Homo sapiens: one gene and its partners. The protein of the gene in region 4 purifies or fractionates together with the protein of the main gene of each other region. This does not show direct contact. Each region holds a gene or a part of one and is shown on either strand. Other genes may lie near its edges. The genes, in order: TRIM40, RIGI, TRIP12, SERINC5, MYCBP2, TRIM25 and WWP1.

The links.
Region 1: the proteins of SERINC5 (region 4) and TRIM40 purify together in Homo sapiens (affinity purification with western blotting, with the first as the bait; one study listed by BioGRID). This does not show direct contact.
Region 2: the proteins of SERINC5 (region 4) and RIGI purify together in Homo sapiens (affinity purification with western blotting, with the first as the bait; one study listed by BioGRID). This does not show direct contact.
Region 3: the proteins of SERINC5 (region 4) and TRIP12 purify together in Homo sapiens (affinity purification with mass spectrometry, with the first as the bait; one large-scale study listed by BioGRID). This does not show direct contact.
Region 5: the proteins of SERINC5 (region 4) and MYCBP2 purify together in Homo sapiens (affinity purification with mass spectrometry, with the first as the bait; one large-scale study listed by BioGRID). This does not show direct contact.
Region 6: the proteins of SERINC5 (region 4) and TRIM25 purify together in Homo sapiens (affinity purification with mass spectrometry, with the first as the bait; one large-scale study listed by BioGRID). This does not show direct contact.
Region 7: the proteins of SERINC5 (region 4) and WWP1 purify together in Homo sapiens (affinity purification with mass spectrometry, with the first as the bait; one large-scale study listed by BioGRID). This does not show direct contact.

The regions. Positions count from the first base shown.
Region 1 is NC_000006.12:30,138,557-30,142,771, forward strand, and holds part of TRIM40 (E3 ubiquitin ligase TRIM40), read left to right. Parts: intron 1-4,215. UniProt on the Homo sapiens protein: E3 ubiquitin-protein ligase that plays a role in the limitation of the innate immune response. Mediates inhibition of the RLR signaling pathway by ubiquitinating RIGI and IFIH1 receptors, leading to their proteasomal degradation.
Region 2 is NC_000009.12:32,484,441-32,488,655, forward strand, and holds part of RIGI (antiviral innate immune response receptor RIG-I), read right to left. Parts: intron 3,764-4,215; coding exon 3,505-3,763; intron 3,194-3,504; coding exon 3,031-3,193; intron 840-3,030; coding exon 735-839; intron 704-734; exon of another isoform or gene 1-703.
Region 3 is NC_000002.12:229,855,672-229,859,886, forward strand, and holds part of TRIP12 (E3 ubiquitin-protein ligase TRIP12), read right to left. Parts: intron 3,904-4,215; coding exon 3,101-3,903; intron 1-3,100. UniProt on the Homo sapiens protein: E3 ubiquitin-protein ligase involved in ubiquitin fusion degradation (UFD) pathway and regulation of DNA repair.
Region 4 is NC_000005.10:80,249,352-80,253,566, forward strand, and holds part of SERINC5 (serine incorporator 5), read right to left. Parts: intron 1-4,215.
Region 5 is NC_000013.11:77,043,894-77,048,077, reverse strand, and holds the end of MYCBP2 (E3 ubiquitin-protein ligase MYCBP2), read left to right. Parts: intron 1-2,584; coding exon 2,585-2,700; 3' UTR 2,701-3,421; downstream 3,422-4,184. UniProt on the Homo sapiens protein: Atypical E3 ubiquitin-protein ligase which specifically mediates ubiquitination of threonine and serine residues on target proteins, instead of ubiquitinating lysine residues.
Region 6 is NC_000017.11:56,907,523-56,911,737, forward strand, and holds part of TRIM25 (E3 ubiquitin/ISG15 ligase TRIM25), read right to left. Parts: intron 1,042-4,215; coding exon 946-1,041; intron 1-945.
Region 7 is NC_000008.11:86,411,545-86,415,759, reverse strand, and holds part of WWP1 (NEDD4-like E3 ubiquitin-protein ligase WWP1), read right to left. Parts: coding exon 3,886-4,215; intron 1-3,885. UniProt on the Homo sapiens protein: E3 ubiquitin-protein ligase which accepts ubiquitin from an E2 ubiquitin-conjugating enzyme in the form of a thioester and then directly transfers the ubiquitin to targeted substrates.

The DNA of each region.
Region 1 (4,215 bases), on a different chromosome or scaffold from region 4:
GGTATTTTAGAGATTTTATCCTTACCATATATTTTAATGTCAGGTATTTTGATAGAATCCTCACAATACTCTTATTTTTCAGAATTCGTGCAGATATTTGTATATCTTTATTTTGCCAATTAGCTTTGGAATTATTTTTATCAACCTTTCCCCTGACCCTAATCCAGTTAGTATTTGACTGGACAATTGACAATATTTTCACATGGCATCCTTCTATCCAATAGTGAAGGCTGAACTTCCAAAGCTGAGGTAGCTTTGAGATACTTGACTTTTGGAGAACATGTTATGATACAGAATGAGAAAGTGGGGAGTCCAGATTAAAAGTGACTACAGAAAGGTAGAGAAATAATTGAAAAAGCCAGAGGCAAAGTTCTATTTGGTTCTAACATCATTCCCTCCAGGTGCAATGTCCACAGGAGAGTGGGGAGGGATTCCTCACCTGCCGATGAAGCAGCATAAGATGGAGAAATTTATTTCCTCACTAAATGATTTTTTCAGGTCTGTCCTTTGTGTTAGATGTCATGCTAGGCATTGTAGAAAGTACAAAGATGATTCATAATTCTTGTTTCAAATCTGTCTTTAAATAATGACAAGAAAGCTAAAACAAATAAATAACGATGACACTTGTTCATTAAGTAAAAACTTAGTAAGTTCCTGCTGTGTGTGAGAAACTGCAGCATGTGCTAGGAATCAATGAAGACAGATGCCATTCCTTCTGCCAGGAGTTTGCAGTGTAGTAAGGGAGACACAAATAAGTAATCAAAGAACTGTAACTTTTTTTTCTTTTTTTTTTTTTTTTTTTTTTGAGATGGAGTCTCATTCTGTCACCCAAGCTGGAGAGCAGTGGCATGATCTCGGCTCACTGCAACCTCCGTCTCCCAGGTTCAAGCAATTCTTTGCCTCAGCCTCCCGAGTAGCTGGGATTACAGGCACCCACCACCAGGCCTAGCTAATTTTTGTATTTTTAGTAGAAACAGGGTTTCACCATCTTGGCCAGGCTGGTCTTGAACTCCTGACCTCATGATCCATCTGCGCTGGCCTCCCAAAAGAACTGTAACTTTTTATTAGTTAGGAAGAAAATAAACAAGGGTCTGGGATGAACAGTAATGGGTGGCCCATGTCCATTTGGTCAGTGAGGGCCTCATAGAGGAAGTGACCTTGAAGCTGAGGGCTGGCAGAAGAGAAATCAACCTGCAAAGACAGGGGGTAGGGAGTGCATACAGATGCCCACACCTGAGAAGTCTTGTTATATTTGAAGAATTTATCATTAGAGTTTGAATCGACAGGACTTACTGAGAGATTAGAAGTGGGTTCTTTGTAAGAAAAAAACAACCCCATCAAAAAGTGGGCAAAGGATATGAACAGACGCTTCTCAAAAGAAGACATTTATGCAACCAACAGACATATGAAAAAATGCTCATCATCACTGGTCTTTAGAGAAATGCAAATCAAAACCACAATGAGATACCATCTCTGCCAGTTAGAATGGCAATCATTAAAAAGTCAGTAAACAACAGATTCTGGAGACGAAGTGGAGAAATAGGAACGCTTTTACACTGTTGGTGGGAGTGTAAATTAGTTCAACCATTGTGGAAGACAGTGTGGTGATTCCTCAAGGATCTAAAACCAGAAATACCATTTGACCCAGCAATCCCATTACTGGGTATATACCCAAAGGATTATAAATCATTCTACTATAAAGACACATGCACACGTATGTTTATTGTGGCATGGTTCACAATAGCAAAGACTTGGAACCAACCCAAATGCCCATCAACGATAGACTGGATAAAGAAAATATGGCACATATACACCATGGAATACTATGCAGCCATAAAAACAGATGAGTTCACGTCCTTTACAGGGACGTGGATGAAGATGGAAACCATCATTCTCAGCAAACTAACACAAGATCAGAAAACCAAACACCACATGTTCTCACTCGTAAGTGAGAGTTGAACAATGAGAACACGTGGACACAGGGAGGGGAATATCACACACCAGGGCCTGTGAGGGGATGGGGGGTAGGGGAGGGATAGCATTAGGAGAAATACCTAACGTGGATGACGGTTTGATGGGTGCAGCAAACCACCATGGCACGTGTATACCTATGTAACAAACCTGCATGTTCTGTCCATGTGCCCCAGAACTTAAAGTATATATATTTTAAAAAGTGGGTTGAAGGAAGGAGGAAGGTCAAAGATGACTTCATGAGTTTCTGGTTTGAGAAACTGAATAGATGATGTGAAAGATAATAACTTGGTAGAACAGGTTTGAATGCAACACCAAGAGTTTCATTTAAGACAAGTTGAGTCCAAGTTGAGACACATCAAAATAGGATCTTACATACGCAGCTGGATCACAAATTTAGATCTCCAGAGTCTTATTCCTAGAACCTAGAACAAAGATCCATCCAGGCAAAGACAATATTTAAATCCAAGAAAAGCGGGCACGGTGGCTCACACCTGTAGTCCCAGCACTTTGGGAGGCCAAAGTGGGAGGATCGCTTGAGCCCAGGAGTTCAAGACCAGCTTAGGCAACACAGTGAGATACTATCTCTAGAACAACAACAGCAACAACAAAGTGAAATTAACAGGATTTAAAAAAAAGAACGTGACAATTTGGGGCTGGGTGCAGTGGCTCACGCCTGTGGTCCCAGCTACTTGGAAGGTTGAGGTGGGAGGATTGCTTGAGCCCAAGAGAGTGAGGCTGGAGTGAGCTGTGATTGTGCCACTGCACTGCAGCCAGGAAGACAGAGCAAGACCCTGTCTCAAACAAAGAAACAAACAACCAAGAAACCAAGGAAACTGATGTAATTGCCTCAAAAGAGGCTAGACAGAAAAAGAAGTTTTGGGGTAAGGTTCTGGGAAAGGCCGTCATTTAGATGTAGGCAGAGGAGGACCCAGCAAAGGAGACAGGATGAGTTGCCAGAAAGGCAGGAGAAAAACAAGGGGAATGGTGCCCCAGCTGCTAAGAGAGAAGGGTATTTTAAGAGATTATAATAGATTGCATTGAACAATGCTAACACTTCAGTAAGATGGTGGCAGAGGCATGAGAGCTGAGTTGGGAGGAGGCACACTTCTTCCATAGTAATAACAGGGAACAAGAGAAGGTGTCTGCAAGCCTACATAGTTTTGCAGTTTTGGAAATCCAGGTTTTGTTCTGGTTTTTATTTTCTCATAATATTTGAGGAAGGAACATCAGCAGTATGGGTGGGATCAGGATGGATGTGAAAGGTTTGAAAAGAAACAAGATGGTGTGATGCAGTGTGGGAGAGCGCTTACAAGAGAAACTATGTAGGGTTGGCAGACAGTATGTAGCACCAATTTGAGGTCTGAAATGTTTAACATGTTTCAGGAGGCTGCCTGAGGACAGACAGCAAACAAGAAGGTGATGGTACATTTTACCATGGATAAGGAGTTGTCTGAAAAGTAACACAGAGAGGGAGGGTAAGGGAGTTGAGTATATTTCTGAAGAAGTGATTATAATGGTGGACCTTATGTGTACTCATGGATATTGACAGCGTAATTTTGAAATTAAGGAGGGTTTTTTTTTACTGATTTTTTCACCATATCTCTATTTATTTGAATTAAACTTTGTAGTTAAGTATTGTAAATTTTGTTCTTTTAAAAGAATCATATAATCCCTGACTGTACTCTAAAAAGACCGAAAAATTTATAAAATCTACAAATTCTTATTTGTATACCTGTTTCCTCACTGACCAGTCAATGTCAGTGTCAATCACTTTAATGTATTTTGCTGGTTTAGTAAGTGTGTGACAGTGATGTACGTTGTTTTACTTTGCTTGATTATGAATGCTAGTAGTGGTGAGGCTTTTATCCATGAAGACTCGCTGTCTGCATTTTCCCCTAGAATCAGGGCATAAATTCTACATGATTGCATCAAAATAGTTTATCTTTTGGATAATGAGCTCCATTAGTTGTGTTTGTTTAACCTACATTTTTTTATTCTGTTATTTCTTCTTAATTATATTTTTGGGCAACTTTTTAGAAATTTGCATTTAAATTGGCTCTATTCTTTTTTATAATATAATCTCCATGTCTTAAATACACAGAAATTTGTTTAATATGAGTGTGCTGCTCTGTTTTATTTTTAAAGGTTTATTAATTCCTGGCTTACTTGGAATTTCATATAGTATGTTGTGTGAAGGATGACTCCACGTTAATTTTCCTTTATTCTGGTATCCAGTTGTTC
Region 2 (4,215 bases), on a different chromosome or scaffold from region 4:
TACCTGCCAAGGCTGCTTCTAGTCCTGGTACCAGGACCACCCACTGGCATTCATAGAGGTGCCTAAGCCAGATGCCTGGGGGGAAATCAGCCCCTCCTGCCCCTTTCTCATCCCCACCCAAATCCGTTTAGCCATTCAATCATAACACTCACAGTTGGAAGCATCTCACATGTGTCTCCTTCCTTCTCCAATCCATCTCTACTGCCTCTCTTTGGTCCTTCTCATTCACTGGTATCTTTATTACGTCACTAATCAGTTTTAATCTTCACTTTTTTCCCCATTGTTTTTAGGATAAAATTCAAATCCAGGCCCTTCACTGTCTTCCCCTGGCCCATCTCTAGTCGCACTCCTTTAATGCTGGGAAATGTGCTGGGTGATTGTCCCTAGATATAAATCTGAGCCAGTAGAGGAATGGTGGTTTCATTCAGGTGAACAGGAAAGTCAGGAGGGAAAGCTGATTTAGAAGGTAGAGAAAGCAATGAACTGACTTAAGTATGGTTATTTTTCAGGTGCATGTGTCTGGATGAACTTACTTTGGATTTAAAAGGAAAAAAAGGAAGAAAGAAAGAATAGAGGAGGACATATAAGGCTCCTAAATAACCTATAATCAAGGAAGACAACCTCTGGATATGGTCTTGACATTGTCTGAACTAAGGAGAACACAAAAAGACGATAGTGAACAATAAATGGCTATTCCCCAGTAGAGAGAACACAAAATATGAGATTTATCTCACCGAGGTCTTTGCAGATTCTCTTTGCCAGACTCTCTGTGTCCCTCATCAGCTGAGCTATGATGTATTTAAATTTGTCGCTAATCCGTGATTCCACTTTCCTGAAAACTAGAGACGTCAAAAAAAAAAGAAAAAGAAAAAAAGAGTGAGTATATTTTCAGGAAGGACAGATTGTAGTTCAAAGTAGGTATCTCTAAAACCTTTCTCTGCCTTTGATACTTCCTCTGAAAAACCTAAGGTTCCAGGCTAACTGGCAGGTGGTCCAGATGATACAACAAATGCTCAAAATGCAATGGCTCCCTGTTGCTTCTTGTACTGATTCTAACACCTGTCTTTCATGGTGTAGGTCTAACTAGCTTCTTTTTTTTTTTTTTTTTTTTTTTGATTGAGACCAAGTCTCACTGTGTCACCCAGGCTGGAGTACAGTGGCGCGATCTCGGCTCACTGCAACCTCCGTCTCCCAGGTTCAAGTGATTCTTCTGCCTCAGCCTCCCAAGTAGCTGGGACAACAGGCGCACACCACCATGCCCAGCTAATTTTTGTATTTTTAGTAGAGACGGGGCTTCACCATATTGGCCAGGCTGGTCTCGAACTCCTGAGCTGGTGACCCACCCGCCTTGGCCTCCCAAAGTGCTGGGATTACAAGCGTGATCCACCGCACCCGGCCTAACCAGCTTCTTACTGTGGCTGTCCTGTTACCTCCTCTCTGATGAGGCGGGCATCTCTCATGTCTCTGCAAGTGCCACAATCTAACCCTGTCTCTGTGCTTTGATATTCTCCCTCCCCACACAGCTCCCAGCAGTATTCACACTGATCCTACCATTTATCAATATATTATTTCAGCCTAATTATTAATTGCCTGCAATGTGCCATGCTTTGATTATAGACAGTTGAAAGAACACACTTCATGCTCCATACAGGGCTGTGATCTTAAGGGAGAGAAATATACATGGCTAACTAACCGTAGCAGTTCTCTAACAGAAGTACATGTAAAGTGTAGCCGGGTGTGGTGGCTCACACCTGTAATCCTAACACTTTGGGAGGCCGAGGAGGGTGGATCACTTGAGGTCAGGAATTCAAGACCAGCCTGGCCAACATGGTGAAACCCTGTCTGTACTAAAAATACAAAAAATTAGCCAGGCGTGATGGCACACGCTTGTAATTCCAGCTACTCAGGAGACTGAGGCAGGAGAATCACTTGAACCCAGGAGGTGGAGGTTTGCAGTGAGCCGAGATCGCACCACTGCACTCCAGCCTGGGCAACAGCACGAGACTCTGTCTCAAAAAAAAAAAAAAAAAAAAGAAGTAGTACACGCAAAGTGTCACAAAACACAGGGAAAGTAACACCTAATTCTTCCAGGGAAGTCAGAGTTGTAGAATAAATACAGGAAGAAGAAAGAAGAAAGCAAGAGTAGTCATGTATATTCCATCACAACTTGGCAAAGAAAAAGAAAAAAAAAAAAGAGCAGTGATGTACAAAGGAAGCACAGACAAAAGGTGGGAGAGAGAAAGCACACGGCATGATTGAGGAGCCCAGAGGAATGCAACATGGTTGGGTTTATGAATGTTTGGAGGTGATGAAGCTCAGAGGGCAGGAGGAACCGGATTGTAAAGAAATTCATATGTGACACTGAAAAGTTGGGATCAGGTACATCAAAATCCTTACTTACAAGCAGCCTTCAAAAAGGAACTTATCTACACCACTCCCTATTACATGTCTATTTGTTCTACCTCAGAAATACAGTCACATACTACTCAGAGAGCAAGGGTGAAGTCATATATATTTTCTGTATCCCTCTCTTCCTTTCAGGGTTAGTGTAATAATAACATCAATAAACAACTGTTAGTCATATTAAAAAATCATATCTGATCTTTGGAGGAGTGACATCATGAATTCAGATCATTCCATTTCAACTAAAATGATCAAATACATATTCAAACAGTGATGACCACACAGGCACAGAGCATGGGAAAAGGCTGAGTGAGCCCAGCTCTTGGCTATCTGATGCCTAAATTCTCTCATCACCTCTTTTGCATTGCTAGTACATTTATAAGAGGTTTTTGGAAGCAAAGAGGAAGAATGTTTGCTCTCTACAGGCCACTTCTGAGGTTCATCCATTGCTTGGGATGAGAGCTCAGTTAGAGAGGCTAAAAAATGTGACTGTTACTCAAGTTCAAGGTTAAATATTTTCTACTAAACAGAGAGAGGGTCAAAGTTCAGTATTCGTCTAGATGGCTCTGAACTAGAGGTAGTAGAGAGTAACAGAATCTCAAAGGCTTGTTATTGGATCCAACTTACACTTCTGGGGCTTATAAACAACTTGCTCCAGTTCCTCCAGATTGTGTTTGACTGTTGCTATCACTGACGCATCAAGAGAAGCACACAGCTTGCAGATATAATCCAAGGCTTCATCTGTGTTTTTGGCATCCCCAACACCAACCGAGGCAGTCAGCCCAATGACCTGTAAGGAGCATTCAAAATCATTAGATGTCTGAGAAATGGTACAATGTTTCCACAACCCCTCATATAACTCTTTCCTGCTGGGGTAGGGCGTTTTTTTGTTTTTACTAACACACAGTGTATGGCACATGGAGGCACATAATGCATATTTACTAAGTGAACAAATGAATAAAGGAAACAAAATTCATAATGAGTTGTACAATATGGACTTGGGACCTGAGAAGGACATCTTCAGTGTGGCCATAAGAGTAAGAAAATAGGAGTTAGGAAGATTATAGCTCTTCTGAAGCATTCGTCTGACTTTGGAGATACCTGGGGCAGTGGGCCTGAAGATCCTCCAAGTTTCTGATCTAGATAATTAAACATGATCATATTGTACGGGTGTTGTTTACTAGTGTTGTGGCATTCATCAAATATCATCAAAGTAAAGATGGATAGTGATGGAATCGTTCCCTTTTTAAGGTTGTTCACAAGAATCTGTGGAGTTAAAATGATGATGTCATTGTTCTCAACAATCTGTTCCACTGGGACATTCTCAGCTGTTGCTCCAGAAATGCCTGTAACTCTATACCTGGGAAATGACAGAAATTCCATATTACTAACCACGATGTGGATAAGGAACCACAAAGATGAAATGCTAGATCAGAACATCAACTGATTAAATTCTCCCTGAGTCCAAAAGAAGAATAGCTGTAGGCAAGTCCTTAGCACAGAGCCTGACACATAGTAAGAGATCAATAAATCCAAGCTAGTTGTAATTTATAGTACTATATATTATTTTAAGTCACTAAGAGAGAAAAGAGTACGTAAAAGAATAATATCAAATAAATTATAAAATCACTAAAGAAGTTAAATGTGCCACGTAAACATCAAATTTATTCCTGAAGTCATTTACTCCCCATAGAAGGGCAAACCAGGGGAGTTTAAGTTTTCTGGTACATCTAACAAAAAAGACTTGAATCCATGAAGGGATAACATCTGGATTATAAAAAAGCTGAATCTAATATAAATTTTTTTAAATCA
Region 3 (4,215 bases), on a different chromosome or scaffold from region 4:
TCAAATCCTAACTCTGCCAAGTATGAGGTATATTACTCAGAGAAGTTATTTCATCTCCTTGGAATACATTTCCTTGATAACTATCCTAGGCTGGGCATGGTGGCTCAGGCCTGTAATCCCAGCACTTTGGAAGGCTGAGGCGGGCAGATCACCTGAAGTCGGGAGTTCGAGACCAGCCTGGTCAATATGGCGAAACCCTGTCTCTTAAATACAAAAATTAGCCAAGCATGGTGGCATGCGCCTGTAATCCCAGCTACTTGGGAGGCTGAGGCACGAGAATTGCCCGAACCTGGGAGGTAGAGGTTGCGGTGAGCCAACTGCGCCACTACACACACTCCAGCCTGGGTAATACAGCAAGACTCTGTCTCAGAAAAAAAAAAAAAAAAGTGTATCCTAAAGCACCATTTTTTTTAAAAGAATATGTAACTGCATATGTAAAATACCTGGTACTTATTTTATGCTACACAAACGCTGGTTCCATTCTCTTGTTTCAACAGCTTAGGCTACGATGAGAGATCAGAACTGGGATAGTGGCAGTGAAAACGGAAAAGTGATTTAATAGTGACAACAGAACACAGATACTGTGCAAGTGAATGAAATAATGGTGAAATGAGTTTTAAAATACTAAATTAGTTTGTGACTATGTGCTGAGCAGGCTTAATGGAATTATCTGGATTGGTTTTATCAAACCAGCAGCAAAATGACACTGCCAAAACTCTTGGTGTTTCCTGATTGAAACACCAAGGAGAAAATCCCACTGATTAGCCACTGGTAGAGTTGGGTTTTCTTTTAAAAATCAAGTTAACAGACTATATAAAGAAAAGAAAGCTGATCTCTACAAAGGACCAAGGCCATGACACTCAAGTACAATCTGCTATTGCCTGGCCCTAGAACCCTCCTACACATAAGAGATGAGTTCTTCAAGTGAGGCAGACTGGAAGGCAGAAGGGGAAGTGAATCCTAAGCAGCTTGCTGTAAACTCAACCTGGCTCACTGGCTGTGAATATTACATAGCAGGACTGACAGACACAAAACACAGGGAGGAAAGGCAGCATAAAAGCTGACATATGTAACTCCAATTATCAATAAAGCATTGGAAGGACAAATAGTTGGTTGTCCTTTTAACTTGGACCTTTTTTTCCTTCTCACTTCAAGATACTGATCTAGCCTATCTTAATCCTTTAAACTTAAAACATTTTATACAGATGTTCTGCATATTTAAAATACCAAAACAGAACAAAGTTCAATCTAAAAGTAAAATATGTTACTTCACAATAACCTATCATACAGGTTAAACATAAAATTTTTTATATAGTACCTACTATTAATAGTATTGTCATTTCAGGTAATATGTGAATCAACCAAAAGTAGTTTTAGACTGCAGTGTTAAATTAAACAGAGCTAATAGTTCTGATTCAATTTTAAGTTAGGCTGATTCAATATGAGCTATACTTTGACAAGAATGCTAGTAGACACTATATACAATCTTTTTAAACCAAGAAAACATTATAGCCCTACCCAAATGTAGATCTAAAATCCATCAGAGAAGAAAAGATGCTTAAAAGCAAGCTTCCTAATTAGGTATTATAAAATTAAAATGCTTTTAAAAATTGTAGAGATAAGTGCTTTATTATCCTATTTGTCCTTTATAGGTTTCTGAAATAGAAATAAGGAAAGAAGCCTGGGCACAGTGGCTCACACTTATAATCCCAACACTTTGGGAGGCTGGGACAGGTGGATCACTTGTCCCAGTTCAAGACCAGCCTGACCAACATGGTGAAACTCCCTCTCTACTAAAAATACAAAAATTAGCTGGGTGTGATGGCGCACACTTGTAATCTCAGCTACTCAGGAGAGGCTGAGACAGGAGAATTGCTTGAACCCAGGAGGTGGAGGTTGCAGTGAGCCAAGATCGTACCACTCACACCACTACTCCATCCTGGGCAACAGAGTGAGACTCTGTCTCAAAAAAAAAAAAGAAGGGAGGAAAGAAAAGAAAGACACTAGCATTCCCCAGATGAGCAGCTGGTTCCCTGAAGAAGTCTTTTGGTAAAGAGAGAGGGAGAAGAGTTCCTGGATATCTCCAAAACTGACTCATGAAGGAATGCACATAACGCTATGTTTCTTCCATCTACTTTCTGTTTCTTTGCTTGAATGTATTCTCAAAACACAAATTCTTTCTACTCCACTGTAAACTTTTAGAGAGCAATATTCTTACTCACTTAGGACACAGAGTAGTGTATATAAGAGTAGTGAAACATAAGTAGTATTCATCTTTAGACAAAACTCCTTAAAAGACTGTGAGATATTACATATGAAAAAGTTTAATTTACATTGAGGTATATTTATAGTAATAACTTAATTCACTGTATCTACACATCAAGAATATCTCATATAAAAAAATATATTTGGCCAGGCATGGTAGCTCACACCTGTAATCCCCACACTTTGGGAGGCCGAGGTGAGCAGATCACTTGAGGTCAGAAGTTTGAGACCAACGTGGCCAACACAGTGAAACCCCATCTCTACTAAAAACACAAAAATTACCCAGGCATGGTGTGCACACTTGTAATCCCAGTTACTCTGGAGGCCAAGGCAAGAGGATTGCTTAAGCCCAGGAGGCGGAGGTTGCAGTGAGCCGAGACTGCGCCACTGCACTCCAGCCTAGGCGACAGAGTGAGACTCCATCTAAAAAAACATATATATATTTGATCTCTGATCATGGCAACTCATAACTAAAAAGAACTCCTAACTAAATGATAATTTTGTATGTGGTATAGAAGAAAATCCAACTTTATGTCCCATCCTGATATTAGGAAATCAGTGAAGTAGGAGATGCCGCGAGGACCAATAAAGACACAGACACTAAAATGTGATGGTTTCGTAATAATAGGAAGGTAGTATTCCTTACCTGTCTCAACAAAACTAAATGTAGTAGCACTTACTACATGCTGTTATGTACTTAATTACACAGACAGTAATACATCTAAGATTATCTAAGACTGGGGGGAAAAAACCCTTAACTTTAAAGCATAATTGCTTTTGACAAACCAAGAGAAACTTTCTTTAATTAAAGAAAAATACCTTTTTGTAAACTTACTTGCTAATTTGGCCTGTAATCCAGAAGGTCCAGGTTTTGATGTCTCTGACTTAGAAGACCCTGGAAGAGACAGTTTTGTTTTAGGAAGGCTAACTTTAGGGCTGAAACGAGCAGCCCAATCAAATTTTGAAGAGCCACCAGTTTTACTCTGTTCCTTTTCCCTGCTACTTCTTCTGGGGCTGGGACTGGACGCTGAACGGGAACGCCTGGCCTTGTTCTGATCTTTTCCTTGTTTCACTCTGGCACCTGGTGGTACAGTGGAGGAGGCCGAGGCTACAGCAGAAGACGAGGAGGAAGTAGAGGCAGCAGAAGAAGAATCAGTGATGGTGCTACACCCAGCTTTGGCTGAGGTGGCTGATTTTGAAGCCAGCTTGGTAGGTTTCGCAGATCTCTCTTCTGCACCAGTTGATTCAGACCCGGAGCCACTCTTTACACAAGAACTCTCTGTCCTTTTTCTTTTCTGACTCCGTGAACCGCCAGTGGCCCCACTCTTCCTGGTATGAGCCTTGCTTGTTGATGGTGATTGTGCAGATTTCAGTTGTTGCTCCTGGTCTAAATGTCTCTTCTTTGACTTACTATGTGGCTTATTTGTTTCTGAGGGAGATTCAGTATGCTGAAGTGCTTTTGGTTTTTTTGCAGAGCTAGGAGAATTGGTCCTGTTGTAGTCTGGACTAGCACTGCGCTTCACTCCTCGAGAATTGTCTTTCTTAGGCACCTGCCCCGTTTTTTGTCTTTCTGAAGTATTGGCTCTGTCTGGATCCTCTGGTTGTGGAACTATCACAGCAGATGATGAACTGCAGCTTCTAAGAGGTTAGATAAGAAAACAGTTAATATCAGCCTGTCATAATTACAACTGTCATATATAATGCTTTCAAAAAATAAAGTATGAATATGTTCCTACTAAGTCCAGTATTAAACATAGGTTTTCAGAAGGTTCAAATCTGTAAAACGAAATAAAAGAACAAAACAAAAGCAGATGTGACTTTGGATACTAAAATATCTGATTAAAAGATAAGGGTGTTCTTTAGCCCAAAGATTACTGACACTAACACTCGTAATCACAAAACAAGAATTAAGATTACAAGAAAAACAACACTTAATTGTTCGGAACCAGA
Region 4 (4,215 bases):
GACTATCTACATATGAATGTAAACCCAGAAAACATTAACAGCTACAATAAGTGGTGGGTGCATGTTAAAAAAAACTTTATCAGTCACCTCATAATTATGCAAAAAGAGTGGGATCAAATACAGCACTTCCAACAAAATCCCAACTTTGCAAAGTAAAATTATAAATATCGGCCGGGCACAGTGGCTCAGTCCTGTAATACCAGCACTTTGGGAGGCTGAGGCGGGCAGATCACCTGAGATCAGGAGTTCAAGACCAGCCTAGCCAACATGGGGAAACCCCATCTCTACTAAAAACACAAAATTAGCTGGGCGTGGTGGCGGGCACCTGTAATCCCAGCTACTCAGGAGACTGAGGCAGGAGAACTGCTTGAACCTGGGAGGCGGAGGTTGCAGTGAGCCAAGATCACGCCATTGCACTCCAGCCTCGGCAACAAGAGCGAAAACTCTGTCTCAAAAATAAAAAAAAATAAAATAATAAATATTAAATATAAGTAACTGACTATAAAGCATCAAAATGTGGTTCTCTCTGGGTAATGATATGTGTGATTTCCCTCTGTTTCACAAATACTTCCCACATTGTTCAAAAAAGTATCATCATGGAAATAATGAATTTTTGTAATTGGATCCCTTCCAGTGGAAGCACCATGTAATATAATGAGGACCTAACATTTCCAATCACTATAAACAAAGAGCAATAGGGAACAAGAGTTCTGTAACCAAAAGAGCTCAACAGGGGGTTCAGCTAGGTCACAATAAGTGCTCTGCTTATAAGAAGAGAGGAAACATCCTTGCAGTAGCCAGGATTTAATTCCAATGCATCAGATGACCCAGTACTAAGTGGTGCAATCAAGTCCACGAAGCAGAAATTCTGTGAGGACTCTCAAAACAAGAGAAAGATCATTACTGAGGAAACATTAATTGAGCTGGGACCTCAAAGTAGAGATTTGGGTTTTACAGTGAAGAAGGAAGGACATTTTGGGGGAAACATCATCATTATTATTATTTTTTGAAACGGAGTCTCGCTGTCTTGCCCAAGCTGGAGTGAAGTGCCATGATCTTGGCTCACAGCAACTTCAGCCTCCCAGGTTCAAGCGACTCTCCTGCCTCAGCCTCCTGAGTAGCTGGGATTACAGGCATATGCCATCACGCCCAGTTAATTTTTATATTTTTAGTAGAGACAGGGTTTCGCCATGTTGGCCAGGCTGGTCTCGAACTCCGCCCACCTGAGCCTCCCAAAGTGCTGGGATTATAGGCGTGAGCCACCATGCCCGGCCTGGAATCATCATTATTGTATGTGGTGTGTAATTTATTTTTTAAATAAGTCTTCTTCATGGACTCTGTGTATGTGGGTGTGTGTTTTAAGCTGCATTATAGGGGCATCAGTTGCCCTGATAAGACCCCTATTCCAGCAAACATTTAATCAAAGGCCACACAGCTGGCCTAATTGCATTTACAGCGACCAACCCTTTGTAACTTTTCACTTTCCTGACTCTTGAGCCACCGCTCACTCCCCTCCTTACTCCCTTATGCTCACTTTAAAAGGCCTAGTCACCTCTGCACAAAATCGAATGGAGCTCAGCTCTTTCCCCTACAGTCAATAGTTACTGAATAAACGTGTTTTTACTGCTTTAACTAATGTCCCGCTTTGTTTATCTTTGATGATGGATAGTTCCTGGTGGCATTCAAGGCTTTGTTAATTAACATAACGGACATCAGAAATGAGTTTTACTAGCCTGGGCAGCAAAGCCAGACCCAGTCTCTACAAAAATTTTTAAAAACTGGCCAGGCATGGTAGAACGCACCTGTAGTCCCAGCTACTTGGGAGGCTGAAGCAGAAAGATTGCTTGACCCCAGGAGTTGGAGGCTGCAGTGAGCTATGATTGAGCCACTGCAATCCAGCCTGGGCAAGAGCTAGATCCCATCTTTAAATACATACATGCATACATACATACATACATACATACATACATACATACATACATACATGGGTTTTCATTGAGGAAAATCTTGGTGATCTAGAAATAGGATCTGGCTGGAAATACCTGGGCCTGGGCATTCCTGCCTTGCATAAACTGGCTATAAAGATAGAGTGAATAGGGCCGGCGCAGTAGCTCATGCCTGTAATCCCAGCACTTTGGGAGGCAGAGGCGGGCGGGTCACCTGAGGTCAGGAGTTCGAGACCAGCCTGGCCAAGATGACAAAACCCCATCTCTACTGAAAATGCAAAAATTAGCCAGATGTAGTGGCAAGTGCCTGTAATCCCAGCTATTCAGGAGGCTGAGGCAGGAGAATCGCTTGGACCCGGGAGGCGGAGGTTGCAGGGAGCCAAGATTGCGCCACTGCACTCCAGCCTGGGTGACAGAATGAGACGCTGTCTCAAAAAAAAAAAAAAAAAGACAGAGTGAACCTTTACTCAGAATGGCAACCACAGGCTTGATCCTCCTGGTGCAATAGTCTTGGCTGCCCACCAACCAGACATTAGCTGAGTCTTGCCTACTAGAATGTTGGCGCATCTGCCTCGGGTGAACTTTTCAGGCAAGAAGCCTATTAATTTCAGCATTATTATTGTCATAAATGCCTATACTTGCCTGCAGCAAGCCCTCCCAATCCCTATTGTCAAACTGCCTTGGAAAGGTTGTCTAGATTTTCCAAGCACACACCTCACTTCCGCTCTGACAGTGAGCACTGTCATTTTCTTTTCTTTTCCTTTTTTTTTTTTTTTTTTTTTTGAGACAGCGTCTCACTCTGTTGCTCAGGCTAGGGTGCAGTGCTCAATATCAGCTCACTGCAACCTGCACCTTCCAAGTTCAAGTGATTCTGGTGCCTCAGCCTCCCAAGTAGCTGGGAATACAGGTCGTGCACCATCACGCCTGGCTAATTTTTGTTTTAGTAGAGACAGGGTTTCACCATGTTGCCCAGGCTGGTCTCGAACTCCTGGCCTCAAGCGATCCACCTGCCTCGGCCTCCCAAAGTGCTGGGATTACAGGCAAGAGCCACCATGCCCAGCCTGCACTGTCATTTTCTGTAGCTAACTTCCCCCAACACTCCCACCTCCACATAGCCCTTAAGTTAAAGGAGAACAAGGAAGCCCTGTGTTCATTACCGTGTCTCTAGGGGCCTAGCACAGAACTTTGAACCCATAAAGTGTTGAGTGACCACTCCCCTGTAATCTCTACTTTCTTAGCATCCATTAGCCAACAGCCTAAGCAAAACCAAAGTGAATATCAGAGTAGATACAAAAATAAAATAAGCTGATCTGGATATTATCCTGATGCAGATGGGTAATGGCCACTAATAAGATTTGGGGGGTTCCTCACACTCTGCCAAATCCTATATTACAGACTTTACACTTATCATCACATGTAATTTTCCCAATAACCCTAAGAAGTACCCATTCAATAGTTGAGGTAAAATGAGGTCATAGAGGGTAAGTAACTCATCCAGTCACACCAGTCCTCATTGTCCAGATTTCCAAATTGAAACCCAGGCCTGAGTCCAAAGCCCAGGCTCTTTTATGGGTTACATATTGTTCAGGATGGTCCGCAGTTAAAGAAAGTCACCAAAATGTCTCTCTCCGACCTCAAACTTCTCCCGACCTAAATACCTAATTGGTGACTTGCCATTTCCATTAAATTTATAATAGGCATCTCTAATGTAACGAAGCCAAGAAACTTGGGTTTTCCTCACCAAATGTCCTCTTCCTAACAATTTCCTACTTCACCTCAGTAATGCGATCATCATCTACCCAGTGGCTCAGGCCAGAAACCGAGCCTGTCTCATTCCCACATCCCACTTCTAATCCTTGCTCAAATCCAGTTCTACCTCTGAAATATACCCAAAGCCAATGATGTCCCACTGTACTCACTCCTACAGCCATAGCCTAAATTAAGGTACCACGCTGTCTCCTCCTGGGACTACAGCAACAGCAGATTGCCAGGATTCGAGCTCCATCAGGAAAGGATTTTTGTTCACTGCCGAAGCCTAGAACACTGCTTGCCCCTAAGAGGCAAATATCCACTTAGGTTTTCCTCACCAACTGCTTCATGACCAACTCGAACTGCTTTCCTCACCTCCACTCTAGCCCGTTACAGTCCAGTCTTCACGACATCCCAATTATCTTCTAAGTGCAAATCAAACCACAGCTCGCCCCTGCTCAGAATCCTCCCACAGCCTCTCACTGCAACCAGAATTAAATCCAAAGTCCAAAGGCAGCTG
Region 5 (4,184 bases), on a different chromosome or scaffold from region 4:
AGATATAACAGTCTCTCATTGTCTGAGATAATGCCAGGAGTTCTTTGTCCTACCTCCAAGAAGATTAAGGAGCACAGATACAAAGGTGAGGTTAGAGCGAAAGTTTAATAAGCAAAAGAAGAAAGCTCTCTGCCAGCAGAGAGGGGGGCCCAAACAGGATGCTCCCGTGAGGCTGGGGCCCAGGGTTTTTATGGACTGGAAAGGGGAAGGAATGTGCTTAGTCTGTGGGCTGTCTTGGCCCGCAGCGTGACTCAGCTTGGCCCGGGACCCTGGCCCAGGAACCCACTGGAGCCCACTGTGCCTATGCCCACAAAAGGAGAGAGCCCCCTGACTATACAAAGGACAAAGGCATTTCTATCCCAGGTCTTGTCCTTTATCTGATTGAAGGTTTTTCTGTCTGTGCAGCCGTGGGCATGTCTTTAGGCACAATGCCCTGTGCTAGTTCCCTCATCGGTGCCTGCAGCTTGACTTTTTTTCCCCAACTGCTTTTTATGTTATATGGGGATGAGGCACTGACCTGTGGACCTGGGGCTCTCTGGGGACCCTTCCCTTGCTATCTACCTAAGGCAAACTAACTCCTTTCATTAACACGTCAGTATATAAATTTGGAGGAGCACAAAAACATCCAGACCATAGCATAATCCCTCTATCCATTTCTTTCTAAAATATTTATTGACTACCTTCTCGTGCCAGGATACTTAATCTTCACAGCACCCCATGAGTTAGGTATTGCTGTGTCTATTTTAAAGATGAGGTATCTAAGAATCAGAAAAAATAATTTTACTTCAGTTTCATATCTACAAAATGAGGATAATCGTTTCTGCCTCCTATGACTGTTAAATGGTTAAGTAGCTGATATACTAGAACAGTGCCTCAGTAGTAAGCACTCAGATGTTTGCAGGTGTGTTTTCACTATTTTTATTTCTCACCACCATGTTGGATTGTGAACACCTTGAAGATGGGAGCCATGCACTTTTCATCTTTAATCCCAAGTACCTAAGAATGCCCTTCATATATTAGGCATGCGGTAAATATTTGTTGAGTAAATGACTCATTTTTTCCTTGAAAAAACCCAAGGGCTGCAGTTTGTGTCACCACCATTGATATGTTGTGTATCTGAACTAGATCTGCCATTGAGTGTCCCCATCCTGCGCACTCTCCCCCACCCACTGGTGGGGTGGGCACCAATCTGCAGTGTGATTTGGAGCAGGAGCTACTGAACTACTTTCTAACAGGAATAATTAACTTTCTAGCAAACCTCTGGCATCCTCCCATGCTGACCCATCCTGAGGTCTGTGCCTGCATTTGTCTGAGGTGGCACTCATTGCCACTCTCATGCCTGTTAGCTCTAACCTGAAGTTGACTTCTCTGAGATTAGCTGTCTTCAGTTTGACACTCTAATGTCTTGGTCTTACTCTTGTACAGAACTTACTTTTTATTCCTCTAGATCAGGCCTCAGTTTGTGGTTGTTCAGTAATAGTAGTAATAGCCAACATTTATTGGGTATTATACTGTGCAGTCTAAGAGCTTTATAAATGCTAGCCTTTTATCCATCATGGTTTCCTTCTCTTATGTCAGAAATGTTTTTAAACCTAGAAAAGGTAAAGTAAATGAGACGTCATTCCTCATTGATCAGTGTAAGCTCATTCCATCCAATCTCGTGATATTTTTCTCTCAAGCACAATCAGAATTTAGATTTATTATTTTGAAAACTAGCTGTAGAAAACTAATGCAGAGTTCCTATTCCTTCATCTACTATTAAATAGGGACTCTGCTTTCAAGTATAAGCCTAGCGTGTTTTTCTGACAAAGTAAGCCTCCTGGTTTCTAAAGGAACTAAAAATCTTTTCTAAATGATATGAAACCCATGACGTGAAGCACATTAATATAATAATTTTCTTTTTTAAAATACTGTTTTTGGTACATTTGATAGGCCTACTTTGATTATTATCAACAAATTCATATCTTCCCCAAAGTGTTTTTTCCACATTGTATTTTATAACATTGTTCATGTTTTTAACCTGATAACTTTCATTTTCCTGCTAATATCCTTCAGGTACTTTTAAAAATTACAGGAATCATTGGCCTTCCCATTTTACCAGTGTGGGCTTTTTCATCAGTAAAAATAAAAGGGAAAACATGGCTTCTTTAAACTTAAATGTTTTTACTTATAGAAAAACATTCTACACAAAAATCTCCCTGTTTTCTATTCAGAAAAATAATGTTCTGCCAGACTAAATTGAGGGGTTTTGTGACCTTTTTTGTTCATTACTCTGTTTTAAAATGATATATCTGATGCATTTATTAATAGAAAAAGATCTGTAGCTCGAAGTGATCCTCTCTAGGCAGGATATAGTGAGTAAGGGACCCCATCACTTCTTCCATTGTACATATCTGTGTTGAATTTTTTATAGTGAACATTTTTTACTTTTGTGATCAGAAGAAAAATTTCTAAATGTTATATTTGTATAACCATAGTCATGTTATTTCTTTGAATAACCTATCAGTGATTTATATTTCTGTGAGGTTTATATGTGTGTATTCTTAAAACATTATTTTCCTTTGCCTCCTTCAAATTTATACAGGTCCCAAAGGCAAGCAGTTAGAAGGAACTGAATGTCCACTCCATGTTGTTCATCCACCCACTGGGGAAGAGTTTGCTCTGGGATGTGGAGTGTGCAGAAATGCCCACACTTTTTAGAACACGCAGATCCTTTGTCTACAGAGAGAAAAATTGCCTTCATCCCCCAAGAGGATGCGGTGAAGTTTAAACTCTGCTCAGGATAAGGACGGGACCATTTTTACATCCATGAAAATGAACCATTCACAGTGCAAGAAGGATACCAAATACCATGTACATAATTCTTGCTATGAAAAGTTTCCCCATTATTTTGGTTTATCTTCTTTTGAACAAATGACATCAAACTTGTGAGGTGTTTGCATGTGGCCATTACCGTCATTGGCCTGTGAAGCATTGGACATTTATAGATAATTGATATAAAAGAATCGCCATGCCCATGGACTAAGAACGATGCTGGCTTTCAAGCAAAAAAGAAAAATAATCATTGTTTATTGTATACTGCCTTTTTGTAATCCTGTACAATTGCATCACGGGTGGGGATAAAAAGAGGAATATTCTGGTTTATTTCCTAGACTGTTATTTAAAAAAAAAAAAAACATTGTGTTAGGACAGCATATAAATGTAATAAGTATCACACTGTATATAAACATATCAATGTTTGTCCTGTATAAGAATTACTAAATTACAAATGCAATTTCATTTAAACTTCTAGGTTAAGTTTGAGCCTGAAATTTTAATGAAGTGCAATACTGAGTGTGCCTCATTATCTTGCAGCTGTAAACATATTGGAATGTACATGTCAATAAAACCACTGTACATTTTTATACAGTGATAAAGTCTACCACTGTGGGAGGTATTGTTTAAAAAACAAAATTTGAACACCTTTAAGGTCTAAAAGTCCAGTTTTCCTCAGAAAGAAATTTACTAACACAACACATTCATAATTTTCAAAACTGTTAGAGAAAATAAGAATAGTAATGAAGTGCAATGTTGGAATCTTAAACCCTAAGCAGAAGATCATAAATATATATATATATATTCGTAGGTAAATATATTCATACCAAAGACAGAAGAAAGCATTTAGGAAATTAACTTCTATTTTAACTAGCAGCATTTTTAACTTTATTTATTTATTTATGAGACAGGGTCTTACACTGTCACCCAGGCTGGAGTACAGCGGCGTGATCTCAGCTCACTGCAGCCTCCAACTGGGCTCAAGCGATCCTCCAGCCTCAGCCCCCTGAGTAGTTGGGACTACAGGCATGCACCAGCACCATGCCCAGCTAATTTTGTAATTTTTGTAGAGATGGGGTTTTGCCATGTTGCCGAGGCTGGTCTCAAACTCCTAGACTCAAGCAATCCCCACTGCTTTGGCCTCCCAAAGTGCTAGGATTACAGGCGTGAGCCATTGCACCCAGCCCCTTTTTGAAGTTCATATAAAGTAATAAAATCACTAATTTTTTATTCATTTTCTATAGACAACGGTGTGTTTAGGTACATCTTTTTGACACTCGAGTCATGAAATTGCCAAATTATTGATTGTTGACTCATCATACATCAGATTAGCAAAACTTTTGTTGTTGTTGTTGTATTTGAGACAGTCT
Region 6 (4,215 bases), on a different chromosome or scaffold from region 4:
GCAGCTCTGAAAAAGGGTAAAAATCTGATCTTTCCATTTAAAAGCAATTTAAACGTATCGAAAATCTGAAAAACAGGGGGAACAAAACCATTCCTAATTTACCACTCCAACACTTCCACTATGATCCTTCTATAATATTCCCTTTCAGTTTCTTTCCATGCTCTCTGTAATGGGTTGAATGCTGGGCCCCCAAAAGACATGTCCATATACCAGAACCTGTGACTGTAATCTTACTTAGGAAAGAGGTCTTTGCAGATGCAATTAAAGATCTTGAGATTCGATCATCATAGATTACCTAGGTGCTCCCTAAATCCAATGACAAGGGTTCTTATTGGAGATGGAAGACACTAAGGGAAGAAGAGACAGGTATGTGAAGACAGAGGCAGAGATCAGAGTGATGCAGTCAAAAGCCAAGGAATGCCTGAGCCACCAGAAACTGTAAGAAGCAAAGAAGGGTTCTCCCCTAGAGACTTCGGGAGTGTGGCCACGCCAACATCTTGATTTTGGACTTCTGGCCTCCAGAACTCTGCCAGAATACATTTCTGTTGTTGTAAGCCACCAAGTTTCTGGCAATTTGTCACAGTAGCCCTATGAAACTAATATACTTCCTTTTTGTAAATAGATGCAACCCTATGAGCTATATACTTTTGCTTCCTCTTTTTCTCCCACTTTATATCATAACCATTTTTCTGAATTACTACTTTTTAATCCTAATTTATAATGATTTCCCCCACAGTTGGGCTTATAGGTAATTTTTGGTTTGGGTTTGCAAAGGATCTCTCTCAGACACACAGCTGTCTGCATGCTTTGCAAGGTTGATGTTTCATCCTGACACTGTGAGTGCACCCAACACCAGCCTTGTCATGGTCAGAGCCACGCCCATCCCGCGTGGAAGCTGAGCGAAGCCACAGGGCAGGGCTGGCCTTGGAGAGCCCTGCCACTCACCCGCACATCCTGCTGCCTGTTTCTCACATCATCCAGTGCTCTCGACGCCCCGTTGATCTGACTGTACATGACAGTTAGTTTGTGCCTCAGGGTGGCCTGCAGGGAAAACAAATGAGGTTGAGAATGCACCTCTTCAGCCCAGCCCCACCAGAAGCCATCCCTGGAACTATCCCACAGGATAGATTCCTTCCTCTTCCACTCCACCCAAGTCTTGCCACCCCAAGTCCTGTCACCCGAGTCTTGCCTGCTTGGAGCTTTTTGAAGCATTCTAATACTTACTACTTCCCTTCATCCTTTTCAGAGGACAGTACAGACCAGGGTTCCAGTCCCAACTCCCAGCTGTGCAACTGTGTCCTTCACCTCAGTTTTCTTGGACACAAAATAGATACAACTGTCCCCAGCTCACAGGGCTATTGGGAGGATTAATTGAAACAATGTAAGTACTCAGCCCAATGCCTGGATCTTAGGAAAAACATACTAAATGCCAGCTTATATTATTATGAGTTTTTCTCTAATTACCCATTTTACAGCCAATGAAACTCAAGCAAGGAGGACAGAAAGGTGGCCAAGCTCACACAGGAACAGAACGAGCTGGGACAGCTGCTTCGGTAATGGCAGGTGGGGCCACTCAGACCAATCCTCCCACTGCAAACAGCCAGGAAAGCAGTCCAAATAATGGGGCAGCGGGGAGATCTGCTAAAAGATGCTGGAGAGCCAATCAAGCAGAGGATTAAGAAGTCAAGGTCCAGGAGAAGGGGGAAGGGGGCCCAGAGAGATAAGCCTGATATCTAGGATGTTCTCTCCAGAGGCATCTGCCAATCCCAGAACAAGGCTGGGAGCCTTTGTCAGCCTCACAGGGCAGGGAGACAGAAATCAGAGTCCAAGGCTCACTGCAGACTGGGACCACCAAGGGCTGGGAATAAGATGAATCAGCCAGCCAGGCGCAGTGGCTCATGCCTGTAATCCTAGCACTTTAGGAGGCCCAGGCAGGTGGATCATTTGCTCTCAGGAGTTCGAGACCAGCTTGGGCAACATGGCAAAACCCTGTCTCTACTAAAAATACAAAAATTAGCCAGGTGTGGTGGTGCACACCTGTAGTCCCAGCTACTTAGGGGGCTGAGGCAGGAGGATCGCTTGATTCCGGGAGGTTGAGCCTGCAGTGAGCTGAGATGGCATCACTGCACTCCAGCCTGGGTGACAAAGTGAGACCCTGTCTCAAAAAAAAAAAAAAAAAGATGAAGTAGCTCACAGGGGCTGAAGCCCAGGTGCAAATCTGCTCAGTCCTAGCCACCTCCAGAAACAAAGGCAAACTGTATATGAAGGAAGCTAATATCCTCATCTGATTTCAATTAATTTTCATAATCAATATCTGAGTCTCCTACCTCCCTGCTCAGATGAATACTGCACAGAAATGGGAAGGAAAATCACCACCACCATAACAGCAGCAGCCAGTATTTATTATGCACTTACTGTATGCCAGGCACTGTTCTAGTGCTTTACCTGTATTAACTTACTTAAAGCTAAGAACAACACTATGAGGTAGGAATTACCCAGCCTTTACAGACAAGGACACTGAGGCACAGAACAATTAAGTGACTTGCCCCAGCTACACTACTAGTAACTGGCACAGCTAAGATCCCGATATTAAAATCATAGACACATGCCCAAACTGAGCATGCTGGAGATTTCTAGAAAAAAAAAATTTCCTTCCCGTAACTAGCAGGCTCAACATACTCTGGCTCTCTCTTCCACTTCCCAGACTCTTCAACTCCACCCAAGATATTCTGGGCGGAACCTGATCTTGAATCTAGATTTGAACAACCCAGTGACAGTCACATGTAGGGGTTGGAGGCAGGGACCAAGGCCACACTAACTCAATCCGAAAAGCCCAAGCTGCTCATGATGTTTCAAACTTGACCTCTGTGACACTGCCCTTCGACCTGGCCTCTAACAGTGGCCAAGATAAGGTGTGGGCCAAAGACCAGGCCTACATACATCCGGCCTTGCTGGCCTCAGAGCAAGAAGAGACCTCAGAACACCCCAAGGCTGCCAACTGCTTCACTTTCAAGAGCTGCTCATAGCACTACACCCTGAGCCCTATATTTTGAAAGATTTGATACACCATTAATCAAACACATGCGGCAGTACCCTCATCATGAATGGTGCCCACACGACTCCAGACCAAAGGAAAGTGACCCAAAAACTTTGGTAGCAGCAATAATCCCCTAATCAAAGGCAAAGGACTTTTTGAAATCCTGAGGATCCCTTCACAGACTAGAGACTTGGGTCTTCCACATGGGAGGCACCAGAGTCTCAAGTCCGACCCCACCAGTGGCCAAGGCAACCCAGCCCCCGAGGCTAAGGGCATTGCCCAGCTGAGACTGGCTCTGCCAACAGTGATGAGCAGCAGTAGCAGGGCTCAAAAAGCAGACCTGTTATAGGACTCAGCAAGTCAGGACAGGGGGGTAGGTGTTGGCAGAGGAAGGCCTGTTGTTAGGATTAAACAGCAGAGTTTAGGCCAGGCTCCTGGCTCACGCCTGTAATCCCAGCACTTCAGGAGGCTGAAGTGGGAGGATCCCTTGAGGTTGGGAGTTCAAGACCAGCCTGGACAACATAGTGAGATCCCGTCTCTACAAAAAATGTTTTAAAATATTAGCTGGGTGTGGTGGTGCGTGCTTGTAGTCCTAGCTACTCAGGAGGCTGAGGCAGGAGGATCACCTGAGTCCAGGGTTTAAGGTTATAGTGAGCTATGATCATGCTACTGTAGTCCAGCCTGGGTGACTGAGTGAAAACCTGTCTCTAAAAGAAAAGATTAAAAAATATATATATATGGGCCGGGCGTGGTGGCTCACGCTTGTAATCCCAGCACTTTGGGAGGCCGAGGCGGGTGGATCACAAGGGCAGGAATTCGAGACCAGCCTGGCCAACATGGTGAAACTCAGTCTCTACTAAAAATACAAAAATTAGCTGGGCATGGTGGCGCAGGCCTGTAGTCCCAGCTGCTCGGGAGGTTGAGGCAGGAGAATCGCTTGAACTCGGGAGGTGGAGGTTGCAGTGAGCCGAGACCGCACCACTGCACTCCAGCCTGGCGACAGAACAAGACTCCAACTCAAAAAAAAAAAAAAATTCTGATTTTATAGCCAGGCCCCATGGTAGCACACCTGTAGTTCCAGCTACTCAGGAGGCTAAGATGGGAGAAGGATTGAGGCCAGGAGTTCAAGACCAGCCTGAGCAACATAGTGAGATCCCATCTTTACAAAAGAATTTTTT
Region 7 (4,215 bases), on a different chromosome or scaffold from region 4:
CTCAAAAGAGTTCATACTCCATCTATAGTAAGTTCTACAGCAGGGAAAATTAATCTATAGTAGAAAAAATTAGAATATTGATTGCCTCAGAATCACAACTTTCTAGGGTGATATTAATGTTCTGTATCTCGATAAAGATTTGAGTTACACAGACATACGCATTTGCCAAAATTCATCATAATGGTACATTCAAGACTCGTGTTTTTCTTTCTTTGTCATCTTTATCTAAAAAAATTTTAAAACATATTGAATTCCAGTTAATGATTTGCAAGCTGAAGTGTTGAGGGGCAAAACATATTGATGTCTGCAACTCATTGAAATGCACTAAAAATCAGATGGATGAAGAGATGAAGAGATGAGATAAGGCAAGCACAATAAAGGGTCAATTGTAAAATCTAGTGGGAAGTGTATGGGTTTTCACTGCAAAATTATAATTTTCTGTACATTTGTAAATTTTCAACATAAAATGTTGGGGAAAATAAAGCAGGATACGGAAATGTGGGGAAACTGGCTTGATTTGGACAGGAGACTCAAAAAACACCTCTGGAATGAGGTAACATTTTAACAAAACCTGAGTATATTTGAGAATACATAAAAGAGCACATGCAAAGTTCTTTAGGCAAAATCGTGCTTGGCATAACACTCAAATGTTATCTCCAGGCTAGAATATTCTTCTTCAGTTCTGGAACTGTACATATAACTGCCTCCTTGGTATACGGCATGAGGTACATATATCAACTGGATGCCCTACAAAATACAGAACACTTTCTCATCACTCTCCTACCCTAAGTCCAACATTCTATCATTATTTCAGTCAAATATGCCATGACCCAGTTGCCTAATCGCTATTTAGGGGCGGGGGTGGGGGGATGGGGGGGGGATTCAGAATGTATTTTTAATCTCTCTGAAAAGTACTCAATATTAATACACTGTCCAATTTTTCACTGATGCATACTTTAGATTTTGATACACAGAATTTTTTTATTTCATCTACATATCTCTATATAAAGTGAATTAAAAAATGTGGAGAGTAAAGGGTTAACAAAAGAACTTGAAGTAGCAGTTCTCAACTTGGCTGTACATTACAATCAACAGGATTGAGGCACCCATAGTCCTATCCTGTTGTTAGCTAAATGACTCAGTAAGTTACCAAACAAAAGAAAACACAGGAACTAAGGTAAGATTTTTAAGCAAAGAGGGAAGATGATGTGGAGTTGAAAACTGCTGACTCAAAGGGTTACACAGCCTGGTGCTGTGTATGCCAGAAGAATCCACCTTGGTTCCACTCTTTTTCTATTCTATCTCCCCACAACTTATCAAGACCCATCTTATGTCAACCTAAAATATTAGCATTTACCTCACTTCAGGCTCTCTTAATTTCTCCCCTGGATTAGTGGCTTTTAAACTTTTTTTGACCACAGTTTACACAGTAAGAAGTGTGTTTTATATAAATATCTCTGTGTATACCAGATTGCTATTTATCTACTGATTTTACTTACATACACACACATACACACACACACACACACACAGAAAAACAAACTTTCAGGAAACAATGCTTATTCTTACTACATTTAACATCTTCCAATATTTCCTATTCTCGCCTATATTTCTTTATTTCATTATGTGTTCAAATGCTGGTCATAACCTATTAACGGGTTGCACTCTACAATTTGAAAAACACTAATATAGATTACTGCAAAATTCTAATACAAAGATCATAAGTGGTGACAACAAGTCTGCTGAAGCATTTATCTGGTCTCAACAGAATTAGGTTTATGTACTTACTGTTTTGAACTGGAATGCCGGCTTCCCTCATTTATAAAACAGCCTGGCTGCTATCCCAACTCCTTAACTCCTCAGCTGTCTATACCACTGCAAAAATGATCTTAATAAAAGCAAAGAGGATTATGCCACTCCCCTGCTTTACATTCTTTAATGCTTATTCGTGGTTTTCAGAAAAAACTTCCAAACCCTTCGAAATCACACAAAATTCTTCACAGGGCTGTTTTCTCTTCAGCATTATATATCTTGCTGCCTCAAATGCTGAACTCAAACTATAACAAAATAATAATTCCTGGGTTCAGCATACTCATTTTCATGGGTGCTAGGAATCTGAATGTGCAGTCGGCTCTACTGAAAATGAAATTTTCACCACTCGTGCCTCCACTATTTGCTAACTCCTCCTCTTCTTTCAGAATCCACTGACGTGTCATAGCTTTCGAAAGTATTCTTTGACGTCAACGGCGCAGGTAACTCCTCCCATTCCTTCTCTGCATGTATTCCTTGTCATGGCATCCTAAACTTACCTCTGGCATAGCTTTAATTGTACTGTATGCTGGCTGATTGTCTACTTCTCTTCCCCTCCCCCACCACTTAGACGATGAGGTTCTTGACAGTAAGAACAGCTTCTTATATGTCTTTGCCACAGTGACTGGCACATGAGAGACTAGGATAATTGACTAATTTACCAAACATGGGACACAGGACAAGAGATTTTTGAGAGGGAAAGGAAAGCTAATATAGGGTCTGAAACATTTCCAGGAAACAGAAGAGGGAAAAGTAGTTGAAAATAAGCTCAAAGAAAAGTCTGGCCTGAACATATAGATTTAATAGTTAAAATGATGGAGAGCTGGCCAGGCATGGTGGCTCACACCTGTAATCCCAGCACTTTGGGAAGCAAGGCGGGTGGATCATGAGGTCAGGAGTTCGAGACCAGCCTGACCAACATGGAAAAACCCCGTCTCTACTAAAAATACAAAAATTAGCTGGGCATAGTGGCGGGTGCCTCTAATCCCAGCCACTTGGGAGGCTAAGGCAGCAGACTCACTTGAACCTGGGAGGCGGAAGTTGCAGTGAGCCAAGATCGTGCCATTGCACTCTAGCCTGGCCAACAAGAATGAAACTCTGCTCCAAAATAATAATAATGGAGAGTGCTAGATCTACTGGGGTAAGCACACAAAGGAAGACCAAAGGCTGAAACCGTAATTAAGCAGTGGACAACATCAGACGAGCCAGTAAAGGGCACTGAGAAAAAAAAAAACAATTCCAAAAAAAAAACCAACGTACACTAACATAGTGACTGAGGTAACAAAATGAAGACAATAGTGTAGAGACATCTAGAAGTGCAGTTTCAATAGCTACAACAGTTGACATTCTGATCACTGTAAACTGTGTTGGAAAGCACGTGTCCATATATACTTTCTGACTGTACTGTATATACTGTACACGTTTACAACTGTGAATCACTAAATAAGCTTCTTGAAGGCAGAGACAATTAATCATTAATTAATATTAGTATTATCAGTGCCAAAGGTCAAAGAAATTACCGAATGGAATACACATATAGAATACTCTTTAAAGAAAATCATGGGAAGTTGAGTAATTATAATGAGAAACTTAAAAGAGATTAAGAATTACTAACCAGCAATGAAAAACTGCATTTTTAATAGAGCCAATCAGCAAGGTTTGTGACTCCCCAGCACTCAATATTAGCTGAGGAAAAGAAGAGCTATTTGCTCTCCAGTATGAGGTCTGGAAAACAGATCACCAAGGATGCCAGAGAACTGAGGATATTATATGGAGTATCATGGTCACTCTTACGAAAAGTAGAAATAAACCAAGAATCAAATTAAGAGGGTCTTGCTAATTAACATCAGGTTTTTTCTTTTCCCTTCGTACTACATATATGTCAACCAGATGAGCAATTGTTCTTAGTTTCAAAAAGTACTTGTTTTGTAGCAAGTAAATAAATAGTATGATTCAGATCCCAACTTAGATTTCAAAGTTCTGAACAATGAAAACATTTTATGCACACATTCAATAATCGTATGTTAACAGAGTTGCTACTTAAATGCAAGTCAGACATTAAAAAGCTTAACATACCCTGATGGCAAGGTTTCTGTGTTGGCATTCCCAGACTGCTGCCGTACAGGATCCATACACCCATCTGGCTGTCTTGATTTGGCTGCTTCAAAAGCAGAACTACTTCTAGAATTAGAGGTGTCAGGCTCTAATATACTTCTAGCTTCAGATTCCAATTCTGCACTGGTAGAAGGAATACATTCATTGTTTTCTGAGGAAGTCAGTATTTCTTGAACTGGAGGATCTTCAACAGTAGTACTAGTGCAATTTGGAGACAAGGCATTTTCTTCAGACACTACTGGAGTACCCGTGACAGACGCATTATCAGTTGGTGCAAATGAGGATGATTCT